4 linked regions of the Homo sapiens genome follow. The protein of the gene in region 1 interacts with the protein of each later gene in a pairwise test. Each region holds a gene or a part of one and is shown in the gene's direction. Other genes may lie near its edges. The genes, in order: CEP70, AGBL2, C8orf33 and NEBL.

Region 1 (7,027 bases):
GTGCTGCACCCATTAACTCGTCGTTTACATTAGGTACTTCTCCTAATGCTATCCCTCCCCCATCCCCCCACCCCACGACAGGCCCTGGTGTGTGATGTTCCCCTTCCTGTGTCCAAGTGTTCTCATTGTTCAGTTCCCACCTATGAGTGAGAACATGCAGTGTTTGGTTTTCTATCCTTGCGATAGTTTGCTCAGAATGATGGTTTCCAGCTTTATCCATGTCCCTACAAAGGACATGAACTCATTCTTTTTAATGGCTGCATAGTATTCCATGGTGTATATGTGCCACATTTTCTTAATCCAGTCTATCATTGATGGACATTTGGGTTGGTTCCAAGATTCTGGTATGTTGTGTCTTTGTTCTCATTGGTTTCAAAGAACATCTTTATTTCTGCCTTCATTTTGTTATTTACACAGTAGTCATTCAGGAGCAGGTTGTTCAGTTTCCATGTAGTTGTGCGGTTTTGAGTGAGTTTCTTAATCCTGAGTTCTAATTTGACTGCACTGTGGTCTGAGAGACAGTTTGTTGTGATTTCTGTTGTTTTACATTTGCTGAGGAGTGCTTTACTTCCAACTAAGTGGTCAATTTTTGAATAAGTGTGATGTGGTGCTGAGAAGAATGTATATTCTATTGATTTGGGGTGGAGAGTTCTGTAGATGTCTATTAGGTCTGCTTGGTGCAGAGCTGAGTTCAAGTCCTGGATATCCTTGTTAACCTTCTGTCTTGTTGATCTGTCTCATATTGACAGTAGGGTGTTAAAGTCTCCTATTATTATTGTGTGGGAGTCTAAGTCTCTTTGTAGGTCTCTAAGGACTTGCTTTATGAATCTGGGTGCTCCTGTATTGGGTGCGTGTATATTTAGGATAGTTAGCTCTTCTTGTTGAATTGATCCCTTTACCATTATGTAATGGTCTTCTTTATCTCTTTTGATCTTTGCTGGTTTAAAGTCTGTTTTATCAGAGACTAGGATTGCAACCCCTGCTTTTTTTTGCTTTCCATTTGCTTGGTAGATCTTCCTCCATCCCTTTATTTTGAGCCTATGTGTGTCTCTGCACATGAGATGGGTCTCCTGAATACAGCACACTGATGGGTCTTGACTCTTTATCCGATTTGCCAGTCTGTGTCTTTTAATTGGGGCATTTAGCCCATTTACATTTAAGGTTAATATTGTTATGTGTGAATCTGATCCTGTCATTATGATGTTAGTTGGTTATTTTGCCCATTAGTTGATGCAATTTCTTCCTAGCATTGATGGTCTTTACAATTTGGCATGTTTTTGCAGTGGCTGGTACTGGTTGTTCCTTTCCATGTTTAGTGCTTCCTTCAGGAGCTCTTGTAAGGCAGGCCTGGTGGTGACACAATCTCTTTGCATTTGCTTGTCTGTAAAGGATTTTATTTCTCCTTCATTTATGAAGCTTAGTTTGGCTGGATATGAAATTCTGGACTGAAAATTCTTTTCTTTAAGAATGTTGAATATTGGCCCCCACTCTCTTCTGGCTTGTAGGGTTTCGGCCAAGAGATCTGCTGTTAGTCTGATGGGCTTCCCTTTGTGGGTAACCCGAGCTTTCTCTCTGGCTGCCCTTAACATTTTTTCCTTCATTTCAACCTTGGTGAATCTGACACTTATGTGTCCTAGGGTTGCTCTTCTCGAGGAGTATCTTTGTGGTGTTCTCTGTATTTCCTGAATTTGAATGTTGGCCTGTCTTGCTAGGTTGGGGAAGTTCTCCTGGATAATATCCTGAGGAGTGTTTTCCAGCTTGGTTCCATTCCCCCCATCACTTTTGGGTACACCAAACAGACATAGATTTGGTCTTTTCACATAGTCCCATATTTCTTGGAGGCTTTGTTCATTCCTTTTTACTTTTTTCTCTAAACTTCTCTTCTCGCTTCATTTCATTAATTTGATCTTCAATCACTGATACCCTTTCTGCCACTTGATCAAATCAGCTACTGAAGCTTGTGCATGTGTCACATAGTTCTCGTGCCATGGTTTTCAGCTCCATCCGGTCATTTAAGGTCTTCTTTACACTGTTTATTCTAGTAAGCTATTCATCTAATCTTTTTTCAAGGTTTTTAGCTTCCTTGTGATGGGTTTGAACATCCTCCTTTAGCTTGGAGAAGTTTGTTATTACCGACCTTCTGAAGCCTACTTCTGTCAACTCGTCAAAGTCATTCTCCATCCAGCTTTGTTCTGTTGCTAGTGAGGAGCTGCGATCCTTTGGAGGAGAAGAGGCGCTTTGATTTTTGGAATTTTCAGCTTTTCTGCTCTGGTTTCTCCCCATCTTTGTAGTTTTATCTTCCTTTGGTCTTTGATGATGGTGACCTACAGATAGGGTTTTGGTGTGGATGTCCTTTTTGTTAATGTTGATGCTTTTCCTTTCTGTTTGTTAGTTTTCCTTCTAACAGTTAGGTCCCTCAGCTGCAGGTCTGTGGGAGTTTGCTGGAGGTCCACTCCAGACCCTGTTTGCCTGGGTATCGCCAGCAGAGGCTGCAGAACAGCAAATATTGCTGCCTGATCTTTCCTCTGAAATCTTCATCTCAGAGGGGCACCTGGCTGTATGAGGTGTCAGTCGGGCCCTACTGGGAGGTGTCTCCCAGTTAGGCTACACGGAGGTCAGGGACCCACTTGAGTAGGCAGTCTGTCCGTTCTCAGAGCTCAAACACCATGCTGGGAGAACCACTGCTGTCTTCAGAGCTGTCAGACAGGGACATTTAAGTCTGCAGAAGTTTCTGCTGCCTTTTGTTCAGCTATGCCCTGCCCCCAGAGGTGGAGTCTACAGAGGCAGGCAGGCCTCTTTGAGCTGCGGTGGGCTCTACCCAGTTCAAGCTTTCCTGCCGCTTTGTTTACCTACTCAAGCCTCAGCAATGGCAGATGCCCCTCCCTCAGCCAGGCTGCCACCTTGCAGTTCAATCTTGGACTGCTGCGCTAGCAGTGAGCAAGGCTCCATGGGCATGGGACCCACTGAGCCAGGCATGGGATATAATCTCCTGGTGTGCCACTTGCTGAGACCATTGGAAAAGCGCAGTGTTTGGGTAGCAGTGTCTGGATTTTCCTGGTACAGTCTGTCACGGCTTCCTTTGGCTAGGAATGGGTAATCTCCCTACTCTTGCACTTCCTGGGTGAGGCAATGCCCCACCCTGCTTCGGCTCGCCCTTTGTGGGCTGCACCCACTGTCCAACCAGTCCCAACGAGATGAACCAGGTACCTCAGTTGGAAACGCAGAAATCACCTGTCTTCTGCATCAGTCACACTGGGAGCTGCAGACTGAAGCCTTTCATATTTGGCCATCTTGGATGCCCTTGGGTTTATTTTTAAAAATGCATCATTATAGTCTTGTTTTTCCCCTTTACTAGTTAGAAAATTATATACTTCTGTTCAGTTCTTCAGTGGATGTCCTAGAAATTCTCAAGCATCCTTAACTTATACAAAAGCCCAGTGTTAACAGATACCTTTACCAGTGTCCACCTCCATTGTAAACAAACTTAGAACACTGTTACTCCATTTACCCTACTCTCAGCTAATATATTTCTGTTACTGTGCATTTTAATTGTACATTTTATACTTCACAAGATCTCATTATGTAGTCTGTGTTTAAACTCGCCCATTTTTTTGCTCTATTTTTTTCTACATCTCTGCTTTTCCATCAGGGAGTCTTCTGCATGAAGCAGCTTCTTTAGAATTTTTTTACAGAGCAGATGCAATGAACACTCTCAGATTTATTTTGTGTCATGTGTTTGAAAATATATTACTTTTGCCTTTATTATTCGTTAATGAATGTTTTCACTGGCTTTGGAATTTTAGATAAGCAATTATTTTCTTTCAGCACATTGAAGATATTAGTGTCTAGGTATGACTGACTTTTTTTTTCTTTTTTCTTTTTTTTTTTTACTGTATCCCAGTTGCAATATGTTGGGTTTCTAGAATGTGTGGATTTATGTCTTTCATTGATTCTCAAATTTTTCTTAGCCATTAGCTCTTCAAATGCTCCTTCTACTCCATTCTTTCCTCTGTTCTTGGGTACCAGTTATGCATTCTGTGGTGGGGGGTTAGACAGGACAGAGTGTATGTGTGTGTGTGGTATATGTGTAAAATCCCAGAATGCTTTATTTCCAGAGGAGAACATTATAAGATAGGGTTTATTCAAATGAGTCTTACAATCAGCTATCTAAGAAGTCACAAAGTTTTGACGCAGGAATGACCTGAATTGCCCTGCAAGAGTAGTGGATTCTTTTAAATATACTTTTCTTTAACTCCTTTTGCACTTTTTGTCTTTTTTCATTTAGGCAACTCAAATTTTTTAATTGCCAATTTCTGTTTCTTTTGATTCTACAAAAGTAACTATGTTTCCGGTAGCCCCTAAACCCCAGGATTCCAGTCAACCATCAGACAGACTCATGACTGAAAAACAGGTAAACTTAAAATATTTTAAGACACTGCTTCTCAAAATATGTGCCAAAGAATGCTACATCTACAAACAGGAAAATTTGACTTTAAAAGGATTCTTTCTCAAATAATTTTAGGAAATGCTGGGTTAAAGACTATGAAATGGTTTAATTACTCTAAGACTTCACAATATTAGTCTCCAAAGGGAGGATTTAGTATACAGCATTTCATACATACTTAACACTAGTTTGATGAACATTTCATTAGACTAGTGTTCTGTAGCATGTACTTTGGAAAATGCCATTCCCAACTATTTTCAGAATTTACAATTACTTTATCTTAAAATGTAAGAGGTATCAGGAAACAATATGTATAAGTTAATCATTCAAAATATGTGACTTTATTATGTATAGAGCATTTTGTTTTTATGAGTTACAGTAGAAGTTCTGAGACACTAACTCAGAGCTTTTGGCTCCTAAAACAACATCAATGTTAATTTTAGTTGTGTCTACCACGTAGTTAAACTCTGTGATCAGAAAGACTAAAGCATAAATGAGAGAAAAGTTATGAGTGGGAGGAGATGTAAAAAAAAGGAGGAAGAAGTCAACAGTCAAAAAGAAAGACTTGTTTGACTTTGAGAGTGTCTTTCAGGGTGATTCTGTTAGAGTCAGTTATCCAGATGGACGGGCTCCTTTTTATAGTTAGACCTTGTCCATTTGACAAGGAGCTGTCTGAAATATTGGCTCCAACTAGTCAGGTATGTTTTGATTTTTTTGTGACCCTAGTCATTATGAAAGTGATACTTAGGGGCTGGGGCGGTGGCTCACGCCTGTAATCTCAGCACTTTGGGAGGCCAGGGCGGGTGGATCACCAGGTCAGGAGATCCAGACCAACCTGGCTAACACGGTGAAACCCCATCTCTACTAAAAATACAAAAAATTAGCCGGGCGTGGTGGCGGGCGCCTGTAGTCCCAGCTACTCGGGAGGCTGAGGCAGGAGAATGGTGTGAACCTGGGAGGCAGAGCTTGCAGTGAGCCGAGATCGTACCGCTGCACTCCAGCCTAGGTGACAGAGCAAGACTCTGTCTCAAAAAGAAAGAAAAAAGAAAGTGATACTTAGAAGTGACTCACCTTTTCTTTTCTTTACTATCCAGTTATTATAGCCTAGTTTACAGCTGTTTATTCTGAGCAGGGCTTGGTTTGGCTTAGTTAAATCTAAAACCTTAGATTTATTTGATTCACTGAAATTACAAGGTGTTTTTGTTGTTGTTGTTGGTTTTGTCCATTGAGGCCTACATATGAGTATTCTGTATAATGCAACAATTTGTGCTTATTTACATACTTCTAGTCTATTACTAATTTTGCTAGAAACAATAAATGTGTTTTTTGGATATTATATATGCATAAACATTTATACTTAAAACTTTTGAAGAAAAAGTTCTATTCTGAAAATGCAGGAAATTATATATGAGAGAATTTCTTCACTTTATATCTAAAGTTAACCCTTTCTTCTCTTTCTGTAATTGTAGCAGGAAGAAGCAGAATGGGAAAGCATAAATGTGCTATTGATGATGCATGGCTTAAAACCTTTGTCTCTAGTCAAAAGAACAGATCTCAAAGGTAATTAGATCCTATTCTTGATGCTTAAGGTAAAAAGTTTATTTTTCCTTAAAAAATTTTTTTTGCCTTTTATTTTTACTATCTGTATTATATACTTTTTAAATGTAGATCTCATCATTTTTGACAAACAGTCATCACAAAGGATGAGACAGAATTTGAAATTGTTGGTGGAAGAAACATCATGTCAACAGAACATGATACAGGAGCTTATAGAAACTAATCAACAGCTTAGGTGAGAAAATGGAAAAGATTTCTTTTGAATTGTTTGTATGCGTTCTAAAAATAACTGCCTTGAAAAAAATCTTGAAATTTAATTTCCCATTTTGATTAAATATTAAACTAAAAAATATTTTTGTAGGTAAAATTTTAATAGGTAAATCTTTTGGTAATAGCTTAGCATAGATGTTTAATGGTACCCTATATTTCTTCTATTAGTTTCTGTTGCAGGATGAGCATCTCAAATCTGAAAATCTGAAAGGCTCCAAAAATTGAAACTTTTTGAGCACCAACATGATGCTTAAAGGAAATGCTTATTGGAGCATTTTGGATTTTGGATTTTCAGATTTGAGATGCTTAACTAGTAAGTATGATGCAAATATTCCAAAATCTGAAAAAATCTGAAATATGAATCACTTCTGGTTCCAAGCATTTTGGATAAAGAGAATGCAAAGAAACTTTAGAAAGGCAATACATTCTTATATGGATATGCTTGGTAATTCGATTTATTTTTAATACTAAGGGAAGAAATTGTATGTCTATTAACTTAGAAATGAACTTCAGCTAGAGCAAAGCCGAGCAGCCAATCAAGAACAACGAGCTAATGACTTGGAACAAATTATGGAAAGTGTGAAATCCAAAATTGGTGAATTGGAGGATGAATCACTAAGTAGGGCTTGCCACCAACAGAATAAAATAAAAGATCTTCAAAAGGAGCAGAAAACTTTACAGGTACTGAGTTATGAATTCTTAGATGATGGTTAGTTAGTACTAAAACAGCTCATTATGGTCCCAGGTGACTTCCAT
Region 2 (7,027 bases), on another chromosome or scaffold:
ACATATTGTTTTGCAAATTGGCAAATTTTTTTTCCACTTCATAAATTTCAGGTGTTTTTCTATGGCAGTACCATAGATATACTTCCTTATTGTTTTTGTTTGTTTGTTTGTTTTTTCCTCAAGATGGAGTCTTGCTCTGTTGCTCAGGCTGGAGAGCAATGGCACGATCTCAGCTCACTGCAACCTACACCTCGTGGGTTCAAGTGATTCTCTTGCTTCAGCCTCCTGAGTAGCTGGGATTACAGGCACCCGCCACCACACCTGGCTAATTTTTTTTTTTTTTTGTATATTTAGTAGAGATGGGGTTTCACCATGTTGGCCAGGCTGGTCTTGAACTCCTGACCTCAGGTAATCAGCCCGCCTCAGCCTCCCAAAGTGCTGGGATTACAGAGAATAAATGATTAAGGTAGCAGATTTTTCTGTTGTAATAAGACCTGTTTTTACCAGGAGAAAACAACATTTTCCCAATTTGTTTTTTAAGGCAGGGTGTAAGCTTACAGAGTTGTTCTATTTTCTCCATTACAGAGACACCTATGAGTATGAACTCACCTTGCGAACTGACCTCTACACTAACAAACACACTCAGTGGTTTTATTTTCGTGTTCAGAACACCAGAAAAGATGCTACCTATCGCTTCACCATTGTCAACTTGCTAAAACCCAAGAGTCTTTATACTGTAGGGATGAAGCCACTCTTGTACTCCCAATTGGATGCCAACACCCGCAATATTGGCTGGAGGAGAGAAGGAAATGAAATCAAGTACTACAAGAACAACACGGATGATGGGCAGCAGCCCTTCTACTGTCTCACGTGGACCATTCAGTTTCCATATGACCAGGACACTTGCTTCTTTGCACACTTCTACCCATATACATACACTGATTTGCAATGCTACCTCCTGTCAGTGGCAAACAACCCTATCCAGTCTCAGTTCTGCAAGCTCCAAACTTTATGCAGGAGCCTAGCAGGAAATACCGTTTACTTGCTCACCATCACCAACCCATCCCAGACCCCTCAAGAGGCAGCTGCAAAGAAAGCTGTGGTCTTGAGTGCCAGAGTTCACCCTGGAGAAAGTAATGGCTCCTGGGTTATGAAAGGCTTTTTGGACTTCATCCTTAGCAACTCCCCAGATGCCCAGCTCCTCAGAGATATTTTTGTCTTCAAGGTGCTTCCCATGTTAAATCCAGATGGTGTGATTGTGGGGAATTATCGGTGTTCCTTGGCCGGAAGGGATTTGAACAGGCATTATAAAACCATTCTGAAGGAGTCTTTCCCTTGTATTTGGTACACCAGGAACATGATCAAAAGGTGAGACTTTTTATCTGTTGATCTTTCTGTGACTGCTATGAGTCCTAGCACCAGATATCCCTACCTGATGGGGTATGAGGTCTCTTCTGTTGTTAAAGGAATTGAGTATGACTTTGGAGACAGAGCCCTTACCAGTCTCTTTGTAGTCAAGTGACTTTGTTAATTTTCAGACTTTTAAATCATGTCTTGTCTTTGGGTTGAAACTGGACATGCAACATTTCAGCAAGAGTCATTTCACTTGTAAGTGAAATAATTGAATGGAAAAGGTCAGAGTTCAGGGGAGTTCATAGGTCTTCATGATGAGACTTGTATCATAATAATAGTAGCTAACAATTAGTAAATGTGTATGCATGAAGTGGCAAGCTGTATGGTAGGTGCATTACACACATGACTCATTTAATCTTCACATTAACATTATGAGGTAGGCACAGTCAATATCGCATGTTGTATGATACAGAAATTGAGAACCTAGGCCAGGCGTGGTGGCTCACGGCTGTAATCCCAGCACTTTGGGAGGCTGAAGTGGGCGGATTACCTGGGGTCAGGAGTTCAAGACCAACCTGGCCAACATGGCGAAACCCAGTCTCTGCTAAAGATACAAAAATTAGCCAGGCGTGCTGGTGGGTGCCTGTAATCCCAGCTACTGAAGAGGCTGAGGCAGGAGAATCGCTTGAACCAAAGAGGTAGAGATTGCAGTGAGCCAAGAGCGTGCCACTGCACTCTAGCCTGGGTGGCAGAGTGAGACTCCATCTCAAAAAAAAAAAAAAAAAAAATTGAGAAGTGGGTAGGTTAAGTAACTTGCCTAAGGTCATAAAGCTATTAAGTGACAAAGTAGATATTTAAATACAGGCTCTCTCTCTGGTTCCAGAGTCTAAATTCCTTTTACGATCTTATATTGCCTATCACAAAGAAAGAATCATAACATCAGTCAGCAGTTTTCAAGCCTGTATAAAAGCATTGAAGGCTATAATGTAATAGCACCCACCTTAAAGGAATTTTCATGCCATTGGAAATGAAAATACAGCATATAAGAATATGTGGGCTGGGCTCAGTGGCTGACACCTGTAATCCCAGCACTTTGGGAGGCTGAGGCAGGCAGATCACCTGAGGTCAGGAGTTTGAGACCAGCCTGGCCAACATGGTGAAACCTCGTCTCTACTAAAAATAGAAAAATTAGCCGGGCATGATGGTGGGTGCCTGTAATCCCAGCTACTCAGGAGGCCGAGTCAGGAGAATCACTTGAACCTGGGAGGCAGAGGTTGCAATGAGCTGAGATGGCACCATGGCAGGCATAGCTAAAGAGCATATGTTTCAGAGTCAGACAGGCCTGAGTTTGAGACCTGTTTTTACTGCTGGCTGGTTCTGTGACCTTGGCTAAGTGATTTAATGTGTCTGAGCTTCAGCTTTCTCATCTGTAGAGTGGAAAAATAATACCTGCCTTGGGTGGTTACTGTGAGGATTGAGATAATCACATGATCTATTTACTATAGTACCCAGCATATTATAAATGTGTAGCATTGTTGTTATTATACTCATCATGGGGAAAGTGAACATATTTGGAAAGCTGGAATAGGTGTCCTGGGTGATCATGAGACAAAGAAGAGCTGAGCCTTGTAGGAACTGGCCCTCGAAAGTCAGGAATCAAGGCTTTCTTTGGTTCTTTTTCTTTCCTGCAACTGCCCACTCTCTGCCTCCCTCTCTTTCTTCACAGGTCTGCACCATGGTGAGCTTTTTCTCAATAGGCTTTTTTGCACTTCCTTGTCAACTTACGCAAGGCTACCCACCACCCCTTTCCAAATCAGAACTTTTCCATTTCTGGTCAGGCACAGTGACTCATGCCTGTAATCCCAGCACTTTGAGAGGCCGAGGCAGGAGGATCACTTGAGCCCAGGAGTTGGAGACCAGCCTGAGCAACACAGTGAGACCCCGTGTATTAGGTTGTATTTGCATTGCTATAAAGAAATATCTGGCCAGGCGTGGTGGCTCATGTCTGTAATCCCAGCACTTTGGGAGGCTGAAGCAGGCAGATCACTTGAGGTCAGGAGTTTGAGACCTGCCTAGCCAACATGGTGAAACCCCGTCTCTACTAAAAATACAAAAATTAGCCTGGCATGGTGGTGCACGCCTGTAATCCCAGCTACTCAGGAGGCTGAAGCACTAGAATTGCTTGAACCTGGGAGGCAGAGGTTGCAGTGAGCCGAGATCACGCCACTGCACTCCAGCCTAGGTGACAGAGTGAGACTGTGTCTTAACAAAAAAAAAAAAAAAGAAAGAAAGAAAAGAAAAAAGAAAGAAAGAAATACCTTAGACTGGGTAATTTATAAAGAAAAGAGGTTTAATTGGCTCATAGTTCTGCAGCTTTACAAGAAGCATGGTGCTAGCATCTGCTCAACTTCTAGGGAGCCCTCAGGAAGCGTACAATCATGGCAGAAGGCAAAGAGGGAGCAGGCACATCATATGGCGAAAGCAGGAGTAGGAGAGAGAGAATAAGTGTAGGGGAGGTGCCACACTTTTTTTTTTTTGAGACGGAGTTCATTTTTTTTTTTCAATTTCACATACATTTATTGAATATTTACTGTGTGCCAGGCACTGTGCTAGCAGCCAAACTAAATATTCTTTAGTTTCAATGAATAATTGATAACGGGAATGTTTTTCCATCATTTCTAGTATAAGTGGGGTTCTTTTTCATTTTTAGTAGAGAGCTATATTTTTGTAGGACAAAACATATAATACTGTCCCCTCTGTTGATATTAAGTCAAATATTTTATCTGTTCAGTCAAAGCCCAGTTCTGGTGTTAATGGGCCTGGATTTAATTAATTAAAGGATTAACTTACTGTATCATTACCTGTGTGCACCAGGCACCCTTCTGAATTGCAGACAGCATGTAGGAAGATCTAACTAAACTTTATTTTTTTTTATTATTTATTTATTTATTTTTTTATTATTATTATACTTTAAGTTTCAGGGTACATGTGCACAATGTGCAGCTTAGTTACATATGTATACATGTGCCATGCTGGTGTGCTGCACCCATTAAGTCATCATTTAGCATTAGGTATATCTCCTAATGCTATCCCTCCCCCCTCCCCCCACCATTTTTTTTTTTTTTTTTTTTGAGATAGAGTTTCACTCTTGATGCCCAGGCTAGAATGCAATGGCGCAATCTCGGTTTACTGCAACCTCCACCTCCTGTGTTCAAGTGATTCTCCTGCCTCAGCCTGCCAAGTAGCTGGCATTACAGGTATGCACCACAACACCTAGCTAATTTTGTATTTTTAGTAGAGATGGGGTTCACCAGGTTGGTCAGGCTGGTCTCGAACTCCTAACCTCAGGTGATCCACCCACCTCAGCCTACCAAAGTGCTGGGATTATAGGCATGAGCCACCGTGCCCGGCCAGTGTCACACATTTTTAAACAACCAGATCTTGTGCAAAGTCAGAGTGAGAGCTCATGTATCACCAGGGGATGGCCCAAGCCACTCATGAGGGATCCACCCCCACTATCCAAATACCTCTCGCTAGACGCCACCTCCAACACTAGGGATTATATCTCAACCTGAGATTTGGGCAGAGACAAATACCCAAACTCTATCACCCTGCCTCTACAAAAAAAAAAAAAAAAAAAAAACCAGAAACAAAAATAGCTGGGTGTATTGGTGTGTGCCTGTAGTCCCAACTACTTAGGAGGCTGAGGTGGGCGGATGACTTGAGCCCAGGAGGTCAAGGCTACAGTGAGCCATGGTCAGGCCACTACACTCCAGCCTGAGCAACAGGGCAAGACCCTGTCTCAAAAAAGAAAAAAAGAAATTTTCCATTTCAAGTCCTTCTGACTGGCAAGGCAAGCTGATGACATGTTTTCTGCAGTGGCTGAGAATGGAGATAGGGTCCATTGAAGGCCAATGGAGTTGAGATTTTCTTAGGAGGGAAAGTATTAACAGCTGTATTTAAGGAAGAGATACCAAATGATCCTTAATTATTTGTATGCATTTGGGTGTCCACTGAGTCCTTTGTTTGCCCCCTCAATAGACTTCTTGAAGAAAGAGAGGTTCTGTTGTATTGTGATTTCCATGGCCACAGTCGTAAGAATAATATCTTCCTGTATGGCTGTAATAACAACAATCGCAAATACTGGCTTCATGAACGAGTCTTTCCTTTAATGTTATGCAAAAATGCACCAGATAAGGTAAGCACATAATGTAATTTTCTCTCCATTGAGTTAGGGACATGGGAACTCACTGCTTCCTATATGTAGTGTTTTATTTGGCATTTTGTATCTCTTTTTATTATCTTTGGTAAATCCGAGCAACCTAGACTTCAAGAATTTAGAAAAGCGTGGTTTTAAGAATTGCTGTGGGGCCAGGCACAGTGGCTCACACCTGTAATCCCAGCACTTTGGGGGGCCAAGGCAAGCAGATTACCTGAGGTCAGGAGTTCGAGACCAGCCTGACCAACACGGAGAAACCCCATCTCTATTAAAAATACAAAAAGTAGCCAGGCATGGTGGCACATGCCTGTAATGCCAGTTACTTGGGAGGCTGAGGCAGGAGAATCGCTTAAACTTGGGAAGCAGAGGTTGCAGTGAGCAGAGATCGTGCCATTGCACTCCAGCCTGGGCAACAAGAGCAGAACTCCATCTCAAAAAAAAAAAGAATTGCTGTGTCCTGCCAGCTACAGTGGCTCATGCCTGTAATCCTAGCACTTTGGGAGGCCGAGGTGGGCATATTGCTTGAGCCCAGGAGTTCAAGACCAGCCTGGGCAACATAGGGAGACCCCTGCCACTACTAAACAATAGAATAAAAAAGAATTGCTGTGTCCATCAACCAATCAACAGATAAATAAAATGTGGTATCCTTTTTTATTTTTTTTTTTGAGACGGAGTCTCGCTCTGTCGAGGCTGGAGTGTAGTGGTGCAATCTTGGCTCACTGCAACCTCTGCCTCCCAGATTCAAGCAATTCTCCTGCCTCAGTTTCCTGAGTAGTTGAGAGTACAGGCATGCACAACCATGCCTGGCTAAATTTTTTTGTACTTTTAGTGGAGACGGGGTTTCACCACGTTGGCTAAGCTGTTCTCAAACTCCTGACCTCAAGTGATCCGCCTGCCCCGGCCTCCCAAAGTGCTGAGATTACAGGCGTGAGCTACTGCGCCCCTCCATAAGTTGAAATTCTTGCATATACAGTTATCTATCACCTATCCTGTGGTGGTTGACCCTGGAAGAAGAGATTGAAGGACAAGCAAAATGCTAATGTCATGAGTCTTCATAGGAAAGGTTATATACTAGAAGATCACAAATAATTGTAAGATATTAAAGAGCTTAATGAAAACAATATAAAAGTTTTTAATAATTGACTAATTTTGTGACAGGCATATACAGGTAATCTTCATTGGTGTAGAAGCTGGTTTTTCACATCATAAATAGATCCACAAAATGTAGCTTTCAGAAGAAGAAAGTAGATTGGATTTTTATTTATTTATTTATTTATTTTACTTATTTTTTTTTCTTCTCCTTATTTTTTTTTTTTGAGACAGAGTCTTGTTCTGTCGCCCAGGATGGAGTGCAGTGGCGCGATCTCGGCTCACTGCAACCTCCATCTCCCAGGTTCAAGCAATTCTCTGCCTCAGCCTCCCGAGGGTCTGGGATTACAGGCACCCGCCACCACACCCAGCTAATTTTTGTATTTTTAATAGAGACAGGGTTTCACCATCTTGGCAAGGCTGGTC
Region 3 (7,015 bases), on another chromosome or scaffold:
TGTGGGAAGGTGTTTGGTCAGAATCCAACCCTTGTTATACATCAGCAGATTCACATTGGAATGAAATCTGATAACTACAGTAAATGTAGGAAAGTTTTTTTGTAGATTCATAGCCCCTGCAGAACCTAAGGCAGTTCCAGGTAAAGAGAAACCCTATGGGTACAGTGAATATGGGAAGACCATACAGAATTCATACCACTTTCTGGATCAAAAAGAATCAAAGAAGAGACAAAGCCTATGAATCTCATGCATGTGCAAAAACCTTATATTATGTGTCAAAACTTATTAAGTATCAGGGTATGTAGTCTTTAATAGTTTAGAGCCTGTTCAGTAGCAGAAAATCCACTCTATCAATAAACTTTATGAACATAAATACTGTGACAAAGTCTTCAGGCTAATTTTAAGTTTAAAAAATCAGGCTTTATCATAGAAAAAAATGAGAAAAAAATAAAAGTAAAATGTGATCCAAACTTGTAATTATGTTAATGGAGACACAGTATATATAAACATATTTAGATATATGTTTTCTTTCTTTCTTTTTTCTTTTTTTTTTTTGAGACTAGGTCTTTCTCTGTCACCCAGGCTGGAGGGTGGTCGTAGAATTTTGGCTCACTGCAACATCCGCCCCTGCACCATCCCCCTTCCCACCGCTGCCCAAAGCAATCCTCCTGCCTCAGCCTCCCAAGTAGCTGGGACCACAACCGGCTAATTTTTTAAATTTTTTGTAGAGACCATGTTGCCCAGGCTGGTCTCAAACTCCTGGGCTCAGGCAATCTGCCTGCCTTGGCCTCTCAAAGTGCTGGGATTATATGCGGAGCCACTGTGCCCAGCCTGGATATCTGTTTTCTTAAACTGTGTCCTTCAAGGTCAGGGTACTTCTCTTGTTCTTTCACCGTACCCATCCCATTGCCTTATTCATTCAGCCCCTTAATAAATATTTTGGTGTGATTTGCTAACTATGGAAAAATCTTTTCTGAAGACTCATGTTTCCTGCCACAAGAGGAACCATAGAAAATATAGCACTGGAAAGGCAACAGTTCAAATCCAAGGTTATTCATGATTACATCAACCTACAATTACTGTGCAGCCCCTATGTGCCTGGTAGTGTGCCTGACAATGGCAAATCAGAGATGCAGAAACACTTGGCCTCTTTTCCTCATATCTCTCAGTCTAGTTGGGATACAAAGGTATGTAGAGACAGATAACCACATCAGTACAGTAATAGAGGTAAGAATACAGGGTTGAGTGGGGTCCCAGAGGTGGGAGAGGTCTACAGAGATGGCTCATTTTCAAAATTCTGAGAGACAATAACTGTTAACCTCAAATTGTGTTTCTATCCAAACTATCCTCCAGGAATTAGAATAAAAATAGGCATTTTCAGATGAGCAAAACCCAAAACACCATAACAGATTTCATTAAAGGAGCTTTAAAAGGATGTACATTTAAAGAAATGATATCAGAACTGAGATATAAGGAATGATGCCAGGCATGGGAGGCTGAGGTGGGAAGATTGCTTGAGCCCAGGAGTTCAAGACCAGCCTGGGCATCCTGGTGAGACCCCATCTCTACAAAAAATTACAAAATTAGCTGGTATGATGGTGCATGCCTGTGGTCCCAGCTACTTGGGAGGCTGAGGCAGGAGGGAGGATCAGTTGAGCCCAGGACAACCTAGGTGACAGAGTGAGACATGGACTCTAAGAAAAACAAAAGTTGTATATTTGAAAACACTGACTGTAAATAGAATTAAGTCTAATATGGCAGATTTAAAAACAAAGATAGAAATGAAGTCAAGACAAAAATAGCATATGAGTCAGGAAGGTAATGGATAAAATCAGAGCATTGAAAGTGAGGCAGGATAGGTAGTCAAGGAAGTAACCATGTCCTCGGGATGCAGCAACTGTTGTGACTGTGCAATCAGCACAATAAGCCTCTGCCTTCACATTGTGGTTAAGCTCTTTCAAGCAAAACTATCTTCAGTAGAGAATTTCCCCTGCAAAGAGCATGTACATTTTGATTTTACCTGTCCTCAGACTGACCTTTCGCTCATTATAATAGTAAAAAACAGAGCCCTGGTTGGAGGTTTAAGATGCTAATAAGACATGTGACATGTACGAACAATCATATACCAGCATGTAGAACAAGCATTGTATGACAAGAAGCATTGTATGAACAAGCATGTAAGAACATACAGCTACCGCACATGTGCACTCAGAGGACCATCCAGAACATACTCACTAGTAGCACCTCTTCCCAATTCCTTATGAATAATCATGTAAGACCCCCATAAAGGGAGTCTCCCTCATGCGTCTTTGCTGCCCCAACCTTATGAGCAGCTGGCCCTCAATCCTCTCTCTCTCTCTCAGGGTGTACTGTCTATTGTTCACTTAACTTTCCAAATATTCTTTCTCCTTTGTAATAAATTACTGTATGCCGCATCTCCTTTACTGCGTGTCCCGTTTAAATTCTGCGTGTTTTTTTTTTTTTTTTTTTTTTAGATGGAGTCTCGCTCTGTCACCCAGGCTGTAGTGCAGCGGTGCGATCTTGGCTCACTGCAAGCTCCACCTCCCGGGTTCATGCCATTCTCCTGCCTCAGCCTCCCGAGTAGCTGGGACTACAAGTGCCCGCCACTATGCCCGGCTAATTTTTTGGTATTTTTTAGTAGAGACGGGGTTTCACTATGTTAGCCAGGATGGTCTCAAACTCCTAACCTCGTGATCCGCCCGCATCGGCCTCCCAAAGTGTTGGGATTACAGGCGTGAGTCACCGCGCCCGGCCAATCCGCCGAATTTTGGGAGTAATGTATCACACTGCAGTAAATAACTATCAGTGATGACCAAACTGTAACCCTTCGAGACCTTGCAGACCAGGCAGCTAACACTTCCCACCCCACCGTCTCAGGAAACACCGCTTTCCACTCCTGTGTCCCCGAAAGGAATCATCAGACATCTCGGACTCTTACCTTCTCAAGCAACACAACCCACCCTCCTGGCATAGCCCGTTGCCCCCCTGAAACCCTACTCAGCCTCACCTCAACCCCTACGCAATTCCTCTCGGTTGTCATGCCTCCATCGGCGGGGGTCGAGTGTTGTGTGTGACCCCAGGTCTCTAGCAAGGTATAGTGGGAGGGAAGCATCCAGGGGAAGAGAGGTGGTGGGATGGGGCTCTCCCTCTCCCCCATACCGCCACCCTCCCTCACGTCCATATCCTGTCCAAGGCTCTTCCCGCGTCTGCTTCTGAAACCCCTCCACGTCCCTCCACCCCATGTGCCCCACTCGTTACACAAGAGCAGAGAGATCTGCAGAACATACGTCTACGATTATGCCACTCTTCAGATTTACATCTTGCAGCGACTTCCCACTGCGTTAGAACGGAAGTAAGCCCATGACGGGGGCCCTCCCAACTCTCAGACCTCACCCGAGCCTCCACGTCCCGAGACGCCGGCCTCTCAAACGACCGCGCCCTGACCCTCGCTCTTCCCCATTTCCCAGGGTCTTTGCCGACCACCCTCTTGCGCCGTAGCTGCTCACGTGCTGTTTACTTGCTTTTCCCTCCCCACCAAAAGGTGAGCCTTGAGAAGACACACCCTCGTGGAGAGCTTTGAACTTTTATCCGGAAAGGTGCCGGGCACGTAGTCAGCGCCCGCGATCACTCGCTCACAAGGGTTCTTCCGAGACCCCTCTTCAGCCTCTTCCCCGAACCCCCAGGCCCCGCCCCAGCCCCATCTCAGCTTCGTCCCAGGCGCGTCCCAGCTTCGCCCCGTCCCAGCTTCATCCCACCCCAGCCGCGCCCCGCCCCGCCCGCTCCCCGCCCCGCCCGCGCCCCGCCCGCGCCCCGCCCCGCCCGCGCCCCGCCCGCGCCCCGCCCGCGCCCCGCCCGCGCCCCGCCCGCGCCCCGCCCGCGCCCCGCCCGCGCCCCGCCCGCGCCCCGCCCGCGCCCCGCCCGCGCCCCGCGGAACCTAGAGTCGCAGGCGCGTTCTTGAAGGACGGAATTCGGCGTCGGACTCTGCGCCCCGCGTAGTTCCGGTGGCGACTGCGGCGCATGGCGGTGAGCGGTGTGGAGAAGACGCGCGGGTGGCTGGGCCTTGCATTGTTGGCGGCTCTCGGTGACCCTCGTGCTACCCCCCTTTCTCCAGGCCCTGGGACATCTTGCTGGGGAGGCAGCGGCGGCCCCAGGCCCGGGTACTCCCTGCGCGTCCCGCGGAGCCCGGCTTCCCGGCCCAGTTTCCAGCGCCCGGAATCCTTCCACTGTCTGTCTCTGCCCAGAGCAACCTACGTGCAGTAACGCTGACTCCAGAGCGCACCCGTTGGGCGATGAAGGCGGCACAGCGTCGAAAAAACAAAAGAATAAGAAGAAAACGCGGAACAGGGCCTCTGTGGCAAATGGAGGCGAGAAGGCCTCAGAGAAACTCGCCCCAGAAGAAGTTCCCCTAAGCGCTGAGGCCCAGGCAAGGGCGGGCTTCGGTCGGGAAGGGTGGAATCCACGGGTGCGAATCCACGGGCACGTGTGATCTGGGGTCCGCGGAGTTAAGGCGGGGAGGGGCATGGGATGGGGCCGGCGGCTATGGTTTTCCAGTGCCCTCTCACAGCCACTTCCCCAAATCCATCACAGGCACAACAGTTGGCCCAGGAATTGGCTTGGTGTGTGGAGCAACTGGAGCTGGGCCTCAAGAGGCAGAAACCCACCCCGAAACAGAGTAAGGGACCCTTCTGTAGAGCTGGGGGATGTGAACAGTGGCACTGCCTGGCCTGCAGGTGCTGGCAGAGTATGGAGTTGTTGGCTTTGCGGCGGGGTGGTAGGAGGTCAGTAATAGAGGTGTTCACTAGTCCTTTATTTTTATTCGCAGAAGAGCAGGCTATTGGAGCAATCCGAACCCTGCGCAGCAAAAGAACGCCCTTGCCCCGGAAGAGGCAGCTGATGCACTCCTTGTTTGGAGACTATAGGGCTCAGATGGAAGCCGAATGGCGTGAGGCCCTGCGGGCTCTCAGAGCTGGTGAGGAGCTAGCCACTGGTTGATTCAGGAAGGCCTAACTTAAGGAGGAAGTGTCTAGGGGGTGAAAGGAAGAAGGCCCAGAGCAACAAGCCTGGTGGGGGAAGGAGATGGGCTCAGGGAAGCCTGAGGGAGCAGGGAAACAGAAAGCGTGGACCTCTCTTTCCTCTTCCTAGGACTGAACCTGGGAAGCAGCGGGGAGGCCCTGGGAGGAGTGGGAAAGAGCATGGTCCTATGTTGGTCCTGCTCCTGGGTTGGGGAAAGCTGCCTCATGTCTTTGTGTCTTGGCTTTCTCTACTAGCAATGAAGCCATATCCCATAACAGTTTGAGTGCAATTCCTGGGGCCAGATCAGCTAGGTTCAAATCCTGGATCTACCACATAGTAGTACTAACACCTTTTGCAAACTACTGAACCTCTCTAAGTGGGGGATGATAGTAATATCAACCTTACAAATTTGAGGAATTAATCAGTTAATTTATGCAAGGTGGTTAGAATTGTATGGGCAAACATAACTGTACAGGTAATGTTAATTGTTATTATTCAGTTCTGACATACGCTGCTTCTCTCCCCGACAGCTGCTTATTCAGCCCAGGTGCAACCTGTAGATGGAGCCACCAGAAAGAAGAGCCAAAGGGTCTGCAGGCCTCGCTCTATATGGAGAGCCAAAGCCACTCTGGACATGCCTGATGAAGAGTTTAGGTTCAATTTCTTTTAGCGTCTCCCCGAACCTGAAACAATCCCCCTCCCTTGGGGTGGTGTAGGGGTTTGTTTTGAGTGCAGAGCCTTTCCAGGACTTCTGTTGTCAGAGAACCCTGGAGTTGGTCTGTCCCTGGCTGGTCCAAGGATTTGTAGCTGTTGTGAAGGTGTGAGACCATCAGATAGGCAAAAGACCCCGTTCGTTTTCTGATGAAATGTTCTCTCTTTCAGAAGAGAGAGAGAGGTGCATTTAGAAAATATGCAATAAATTGAAGTGAGTGTTCAAAGTATTGTAGAAGGAATATTGTACTCAGTCTTTAGGATTAGATTAAGTGGCTGTTGGTAACAAAGATTAGTGGAGAAGCTGTATAATCGTACACTGGTTTTCACTTTTGAAAGGAATCCCTGTCAAATGGTTTAGTGCTTAATGCTGTTATGTCATATTGCCCTAATCTCTATTTTTGATAAAATTGGATAAGGAGTGAAAGAGTATGCTGACCACCTATGTTAGAGGAAGTACAGAAGATGCAGGGGTGTGGTATCCCTGGGTCCAGTCCCTCACCTGGTACCTTTGTGCATGTTGCCTTCATTCCTGAGCAGGTATCATCCTCAGGGAACCAGCATGGCACCTACCAGGCCAGGCTCTGTTCTTAGGAGCAAGGAGCTTCTTGCGCTAACAGTTCTGGCCTGAGACCTGGATTGAGCCTTGGCAGACTTCTTGTCTAAATGTTGGCCATTCAGTCTCAGGCCCTCTGTTCCATGGAATTGGGAATCTCCAGGTGACCTAATCCTCATTGGTGGCTTGATGTTTGCTGGTATCTTCCAAACTCAGTTCCCAGACTAGATTGATACCTGGAGCCCAGCTGCCTACTCAGCATTTCCACTTGGGTGCTTCATAGGCATTTCAAACCTGATGTGTTTAAAACACTTGATTAGGCTCCGGTTTTCCTTTGGCTTCTGCTTTTCAGTGAATGGCATGACTGCCTATGTGGGTGGCAAGCCACCCAGGTGCCGAGGAAAGAGACTGAGGGCACGAGCTGTTCCAGTATAATAAAATATATAAAATAAGAAGAGTTATACTAGATCTAGATCATAGACATGATTATATGTGAGTATCATTAATCATTAGTTTATAGCAATTACTCTTTATTCCAATATTATAATAATCCTCACTCTACAATCATAACCTAGGAAAAACCAGGCCATACAGAGATAGGAGCCGAGGGGACATAGTGCGAAGTGGCCAGAAGACAAGAGTGTGAGCCTTCTCTTATGCCCGGACAGGGCCACCAGAGGGCTTGGTCTAGCAGTAACACCAGTGTCTGGGAAG
Region 4 (7,027 bases), on another chromosome or scaffold:
CAGTGGCACAATCTTGACTCACTGCAACCTTTGCCTTCTGGGTTCAAGTGATCCTCCCAGCTCAACCTCCCAAGCAGCTGGGATTACAGGCACATGCTGCCACACCTGGCTAATTTTTGTATTTTTTGTAGAGACGGGGTTTGGGCTGGTCTCAAACTCCTGAGCTCATGCAATCCGGCCACCTTGGCCTCCCAAAGTGCTGGGATTACAGATGTGTGCCACCGGGCCTGGGTGACTTTTTTTGACAGGTTGTTGTGTATCCCTTCTATCTTGTCATCTAGCTGATGGGTGCTATGGTCTCCTCAAGTCCCACAGTCGTAGCTTCTGGCATCCTGGCCCTACAAACAAACATTTTCCCTCCCTTTTCTACCAGCATGTGTTCCTGTTCTTGCGCTTCCTCCGAGCCCCACTTTCCACTTCCCACAATCATGACTCCATTTTTGGGCAAAGTCTAGGAAGAAATGATAATGTGTGCATGGCTGAATAGGTTATATTGGACAGGACCATTTTGGGGGCACTTAATAAGGGGCTGGCAGTTTTTACCTAGACACCAACTTGTGGCCTGCTCCGATTCCCTGTTGTTGAAATAATTCACGGATGCAGTTCAAGAAGAAAGTCCTCTTTTACAGTCATTAACATATAGATTGGGTTCTTTGGAAGAGGAAACTTGGAAATCTATTACGTTCAAAGAAATCTTTTATTCTTCACACCTTTAAAGTCATTTTACCAGTTTATAATGCAAAGGCAGGTGATTGATACTTTTCCTAACAACTATATTTTAGAGAAGTAGACGCTCATCTTTCCCCCATATATTTAGAGTCATACTTGATGTGACTCCATTATTCTCAAAAAGGAACATGGTTATTTAGACAAGGAGTGGACCAGTGAGAAGCATGCTGGCTTTTTAAAGGATGCCCACAGTCACCTATTTAAACACATCTTTACAAAAATTCTGCCGCAGTTAATTCCTAAGAAACCACGACCATGTAGTACCAGTCTACGGTGAATACCTTTAAGTAATCTCCATGAAGACATTTATTCTCATTTCCTTTTGTGGTTAAATATTTATTACAGCTTTACGGATGGTATGCCTATGTATTCGAGTACATCCACAGTGATTTGGACACATGTACTCTCTTATGGGATGAAATGAAATAGATTGATTTAAGATGCCAGCATTTTAAATACAACTCAACCTCTGAAAATATTTTTTGTAGTTTCCTACAAAACTTCCCTGACTAACTCATTAAAATAAATACTGTGAGCCAGGCACTGTGGCTCAGGATTGTCATCCCAGCACTTTGGGAGGCTGAGGTGGGTGGATCACTTGAGCCCAGGAGTTTCAGGTCAGCTTGGACAACATGGCAAAACTCAATCTCTACAAAAATACAAAAATTAGCCAGGCATGGTGGCAGGTGCCTGTAATCCCAGCTACCTGGGAGGCTGAGGTGGGAGGATTGCCTGAGCCTGGGAGATCGAGGCTGTGGTGAGCAAAGATTGTACCACTGCACTTCAGCCTGGGTGACAGAGCAAGACCCTGTCTTAAATAAATAAATAAGTCTCTTTGTTGAATTGATTCATAGTATTCTATTTTTTGTTCTCTGAAATGATAGGTTTATTACAGAGGTCAGCTGGGAAGAGCTACCACTTTAAGTGTAACTCCTGAAATGGAAAGAGTGAAGAAGAATCAAGAAAATATTAGCTCGGCAAGTGGTTTTCTTCATTTTAGACTATCACAAAGGATGTGTCTTTTATTATTTACTTGCGGTCCTCCTTTGCTTGTGAAAATAAAACTTATTTTCAAGAAACATTTGTGATGTGTCCAATAAGTACATGTGTTATTTCAGATGACTTCCAAAAGCTGCCACTGCAAACATTTACATTATTTTGCAACTCTTTGTTATTTCCAGATGTGACCAACAGTTACATTCAAAGCTTAGGTTAAAATTATATTCATTTAAACAACGATTCATGATATGTTAGCCGTGTCTTTGAAGGTGGTAAAGCCTTTGATGTGTGCGTTAAATAATTGTCATTTTCCTGAAATATTTCATTGAACATGGATTGTTAAATGCTGTCTGCAAAACAAAATAGGAGATGGATCATTACCCCCACTAAAGACTTACAGAAAAGAATCCTTAAATACAGTTAACGTAGAATTCAGTTGCTCACCAAAGTCCAGTGGTGTACATGAGTATCTTATCTGAATATTGTGCTTCCTCTTAGTGAATATCAGGGCTTCAATTCTGAATTGTACATAATGCCCTCAGGTCCACAGTAAGTGGTATCCATATCTTACACCTAATCAGTTTCATAAATGGCGGTGTTCTGATGGGCAGTTGTGAAGAACACAGGCCCTTTTCTTAGCATACCCTGAATAGCTGTTTGCCTGAGAATCAGCATTTAGGCTTTGCAATTTACAGCTTCCTAGTGACATTTCTGTCCAGAGATGCTGTGTGTATTTAACATAAATTACCTTTAAGTTGTGGCTGCTTAGAAGAACAACTAAATTTGTTCCTCATTGTTTCTTATTCCCTAAGCAGAGAAAAAAATAAAAAGAAATAGAGTAGCTTGTATGCATTTTTTAACACTCTTATGGTAGAAAATTGGGAAATTTAGAAACAAAATAACTTTGGGTTCTATTTAATAGTTTTGGATTTTCTCTGTTTAACTTAAATATGATAACCAGTTGTGTGTGTGTGTGTGTGTGTGTATGTGTGTATGTGTGTGTTTGAGACACAGTCTCTGTTGCCCGGGCTGGAATGCAATAGCACAATCATAGCTCATTGCAGCTTTGAACTCCTGGGCTCAAGCAGCTGTCTTGTCTTAACCTCTCAAGTAGCTGGGACTACAGGCACACGCCCAACTAATTTTTTTTTTTTTTTAATTTTTACCTGTAGAGATGGGGGGTTTCACTGTGCTGCCCAGCCTAGTCTCAAATCCCAGGCCTCAAGTCATCCTCCCACCTTAGCTTTCCAAAGTGCTGTGATTACAGATACGAGTCCTCGGGCTTGCGCAGGTTTACAGACTAGATAGATAGTTACTATTGGTCATTCACACATTTGTTTAGAGTTGATAGATTTAGGTCATTTAGCAGTAGGCGGTGGAGGAGATCTTTGATTGTAAAATTTTAGGTTGCTATTCTAGAACAAAATTTAATTCACTGAAATAGTTACCTGGAAAATAATTTCAAGTATGTTGCATATGTTTCACTCATTTGTAAAGCTTAAAAATGTTACATCATGTGTTTTCTTATCATTGTCTTATGCCTACTATTTACTTTGCAGGTAAAATATACCCAGGACCATAAACAGATGAAAGGTAGACCAAGTCTGATTTTAGATACACCTGCTATGAGACATGTTAAAGAAGCACAAAATCATATTTCAATGGTAGGGTCCAACCAGATCATTCTTAAAACATGCTAAGGAATGGGCGGATCCAGTGCACGGATGGCATTACTTCACTATTAATCCGATAACTAACAAAGCATGGAAATGTGGTTGGCTTGTCTTTTGAGGGAGGGGCATTTCTAATCACACTGAAATGCAGTGGAAACATTTAGTCTAATAAAATGATTTTTCTCAGTGACTTTTTCTGGTGTGTCTTTATTTCTAACGTGACTACTGTAAACTCATAGTGTGAAAGATATTTGTGTAGACTTCTTTCCAATTAATTCTAAGACAAAATTTGGTCTGTTTGCCTGTCATAAAGGATATGAAAAGAAGTGTGTTTTTAAAGCTGTGTTTTTAAAAATGTGTGTTTTAAAAATTATATTATCAGATGTAATTTACCTACCATAAAGTTTGCCCATTTAAAGTGTTCAATTCAATGGTTTCTAGTATAATTTACAGTTACACAACTATCTCCTGGACCTAATTTCAGGACATAAAAAAAGTATATTTTGAAGTATAAGTTTTTGTAATTATATTAAAAGTGGTATATATTGTTACCTATAAAATTTCAAACTGATTTTAAATAATGCCATTTTCATGAATGATTGCCTGGAAATAGATATCACTTTATTGCATACTGAAGTTGAAGAGATAGGAAATTTAATTTATATTTAAATTAGTATATTTTAGGAAGTAACCAGGATTTGAGAATATGTATTTTTACAAGCTCTCATTAATAATATATATATAGTTTTATATATAATTTAAAATAGATATGAGCTATAATGATTAAAAACTTTGTGAAAATATCAGCACTTGATTTCTGATGCTAAGAAACTGAAGTTCCAGACTTTAGTTTTGGAGTATTTGGAAAAGATACATACATGTAGACAATCTGCACGCAGCCAGTGCAGTGTACACCTGTCATTTAATAAAAATGTTGTGAAAGAGGTAACTATCCGCAAAATTCAGTATGATGATTTTTCCTTTTTCAGGTAAAATACCATGAAGATTTTGAAAAAACAAAGGGGAGAGGCTTTACTCCCGTCGTGGACGATCCTGTGACAGAGAGAGTGAGGAAGAACACCCAGGTGGTCAGCGATGCTGCCTATAAAGGGGTCCACCCTCACATCGTGGAGATGGACAGGAGACCTGGAATCATTGTTGGTAAGCTGACGGCGTTTGTCGGCCGGTGTGTGTGGTCGAAAAGATCATGCTTGCTCTAGCTTCAGAATTACCCTCTTGAGTCATCTGACTCCTCATCACATGTTGGTTGTGGTACCCAATTTAAAATGGACCGCAGGTAAAGTATTATTTTTGTACGATGTGGAATGGGATTTCTGGCATTCACCTGGTATCATCTCAAGTCTTTTCTATTATTGGAAGCTCTGTCTTTAATACCTTGCTAATTTTAAGAATGTTCCTCCTTGTATCACACACCAGGGCCTGTTGTGAGGTGGGGGGAGGGGGGAGGGATAGCATTAGGAGATACACCTAATGTAAATGACGAGTTAAGGGTGCAGCACACCAACGTGGCACATGTATACGTATGTAACAAACCTGCATGTTGTGCACATGTACCCTAGAACTTCAAGTATAATAATAATAAAAAAAAGAATGTTCCTCCTTGTTAAGCAAAGAAGCAGCAGAGATATGAGTGATCACAATGGTTGAACAATTACTTTGTTTTTCTTTAAAAAGAAAAACAAAATAATTGTTTTTCTGCTTGGTTGACGTGTTGTTCTGTTGACCTCATGTGCATAAGTGGCAGAAATAACCATATTGCGTTTAGGTCCTTTTATCAAAAACAGACACGCCATGGGCGTTCTGATGGTACTCCATAATAGTAATAGCTCATTTTAAAAATATTATTTCTGGACTGGAATAGTTGAGAGCCATCTGAAAGTCTTGCAATTAAGAGAGCAAACTTTTATTCCTGCTATCTGTTCCTTATAGTCAGGAGAAATCCTAGAAGGATATTTGTTGAATGGTGGCTGAGATATCAGAAAAGATCATACTGAAGTATAAGGCAGGGCTAGGAAGGATGATTATTGATTTTTCAGTCTGTATCAACAACTGAAGACTATTGTCTCCTTCAGAGCAGTTAACCTCTGAATTATGTAGTTACGTAGCTTAAAGAATATTTTTGGTATATGCCACTCAGTAATATCAGTGTTAGGTTTTCTTCATCTTCAAAAGTAGGAGCTTATTTTTTGGTACTAGTGAAAGGCCATTTAGAGATAAGCTAAATTTGACAGGGTAATGTCTTTACAAAACCAGGGTGCTAAAGTCAGAGCAGCACTAAGTAACTTGGATGATTATACTAAAGTGACTCTGGAAGTATTTTCTGAAGAAGGATTCCAAACATGTTTGTAGGCAATTGATAGCTTTGCTGATCTGCCTGAGTTGATTACTTAAAAGGATCACATTAAGTTGGATGGATGAGTTGTGATGTTTTCATTCAATGTGACACCAAATTAGAGTTTCATTGCTTTGTGCTAAAGGGATGGAACTATCTTAAGGGATAGTGCAGGGGTTCTGATTTATCTCACTTAGGGTGGAACTGCTAAAGTCTGTACAGCTTACTTCCAGGCCCTGCACACATCAGAGGTCAGGAATGATGGTGAGGTCGTTGCTAAAAACCATGAAACTGTCTAGACCGTGGGCTCTCAGAATTCAGTACTCAAAACCATTGAGGTTGAAATTATGATTGTTTTATAAAATATAAGATGTATGACTCTAAGTTATTTACTTACTTGGCAATCCAGAAGTCAGTTTATTTGTTCTTATTGGGAAGAACTGTTTTCCATTGAAATTTCCATAATTGGCCAACATTAAACTTTCCAATGAGCCAGCTTCTGTATCAGGCATGAAAATACACGTTTAGAGATTTTCTGAGTAATTCAGATTAAGCCAATTTGTGCTGCTTCTATTTTTGTTGGAGGCTCTGCTACTTCTTACGAGCTGTGTAACCTTGGCCAAGCTACTCAATTTCTCTGTGCCTCAGTTTCCTCATCTACAAAATGAGGATAATATGTATGAAACTTAAATTAATTAGGTGTTAAATGAGAAGAGTGCCTGGCATATGGTCAGCACTACATAATATTAATTAAAAACAGACAAGCAAATTTCCAGTTCCATTTTACAAATTAATTGTTTTTGCTGTAGCCCCATTTCTGCCGTATGTCTATAACTAGGTTTTTCTTTTCCAGTTGTTGGTACAGCTGTAAACAGCTTATTTTAGGATCTGATGCCCTTTTGTTGGAGAGACTGGTGAATTCAGAAGTTATTAAAATAAGAGGAGAATAAAGTGGTTTGCACAGTCTGATCACTGACTATGGCAGGGATCCATTGACAGCAGGAAGCTGATATTATTTCTCTTTTCATTCATCATATTTCCTTGCTGTGTGCCTTGCTTATAACACTTTTTAAATAAGTGTATCTAATAAGATATGCATTCCCTAAGATACACTTAGCTTGCACTCACAGACTCAGAATGAAAACTAGGCTTGCCACCATTCCACATTTTAAATATTCATTTCTGTTATAGAAAGGGACTTTTTTTTTGTTTGTTTTGTTTTTTAAACATAAACTTCTCAATTGTTTCCTATGAATTACTCACATGTCCTGAA

Evidence for each region.
Region 2: the proteins of CEP70 (region 1) and AGBL2 interact in binary tests that used the Homo sapiens proteins (3 or more experiments, as listed by UniProt).
Region 3: the proteins of CEP70 (region 1) and C8orf33 interact in binary tests that used the Homo sapiens proteins (3 or more experiments, as listed by UniProt).
Region 4: the proteins of CEP70 (region 1) and NEBL interact in binary tests that used the Homo sapiens proteins (3 or more experiments, as listed by UniProt).

What each region holds. Positions count from the first base shown.
Region 1 is NC_000003.12:138,570,243-138,577,269, reverse strand, and holds part of CEP70 (centrosomal protein of 70 kDa), read left to right. Parts: intron 1-4,285; exon of another isoform or gene 4,286-4,337; 5' UTR 4,338-4,342; coding exon 4,343-4,411; intron 4,412-5,913; coding exon 5,914-6,004; intron 6,005-6,112; coding exon 6,113-6,236; intron 6,237-6,743; exon of another isoform or gene 6,744-6,771; coding exon 6,772-6,952; intron 6,953-7,027.
Region 2 is NC_000011.10:47,684,357-47,691,383, reverse strand, and holds part of AGBL2 (cytosolic carboxypeptidase 2), read left to right. Parts: intron 1-525; coding exon 526-1,308; intron 1,309-5,334; coding exon 5,335-5,491; intron 5,492-7,027. UniProt on the Homo sapiens protein: Metallocarboxypeptidase that mediates deglutamylation of tubulin and non-tubulin target proteins. Catalyzes the removal of polyglutamate side chains present on the gamma-carboxyl group of glutamate residues within the C-terminal tail of tubulin protein.
Region 3 is NC_000008.11:145,048,454-145,055,468, forward strand, and holds the start of C8orf33 (UPF0488 protein C8orf33), read left to right. Parts: upstream 1-4,013; 5' UTR 4,014-4,038; coding exon 4,039-4,044; intron 4,045-4,132; coding exon 4,133-4,444; intron 4,445-4,608; coding exon 4,609-4,693; intron 4,694-4,843; coding exon 4,844-4,990; intron 4,991-5,564; coding exon 5,565-5,704; 3' UTR 5,705-7,015.
Region 4 is NC_000010.11:20,810,304-20,817,330, reverse strand, and holds part of NEBL (nebulette), read left to right. Parts: intron 1-1,613; coding exon 1,614-1,706; intron 1,707-3,287; coding exon 3,288-3,392; intron 3,393-4,390; coding exon 4,391-4,562; intron 4,563-7,027. UniProt on the Homo sapiens protein: Binds to actin and plays an important role in the assembly of the Z-disk. May functionally link sarcomeric actin to the desmin intermediate filaments in the heart muscle sarcomeres.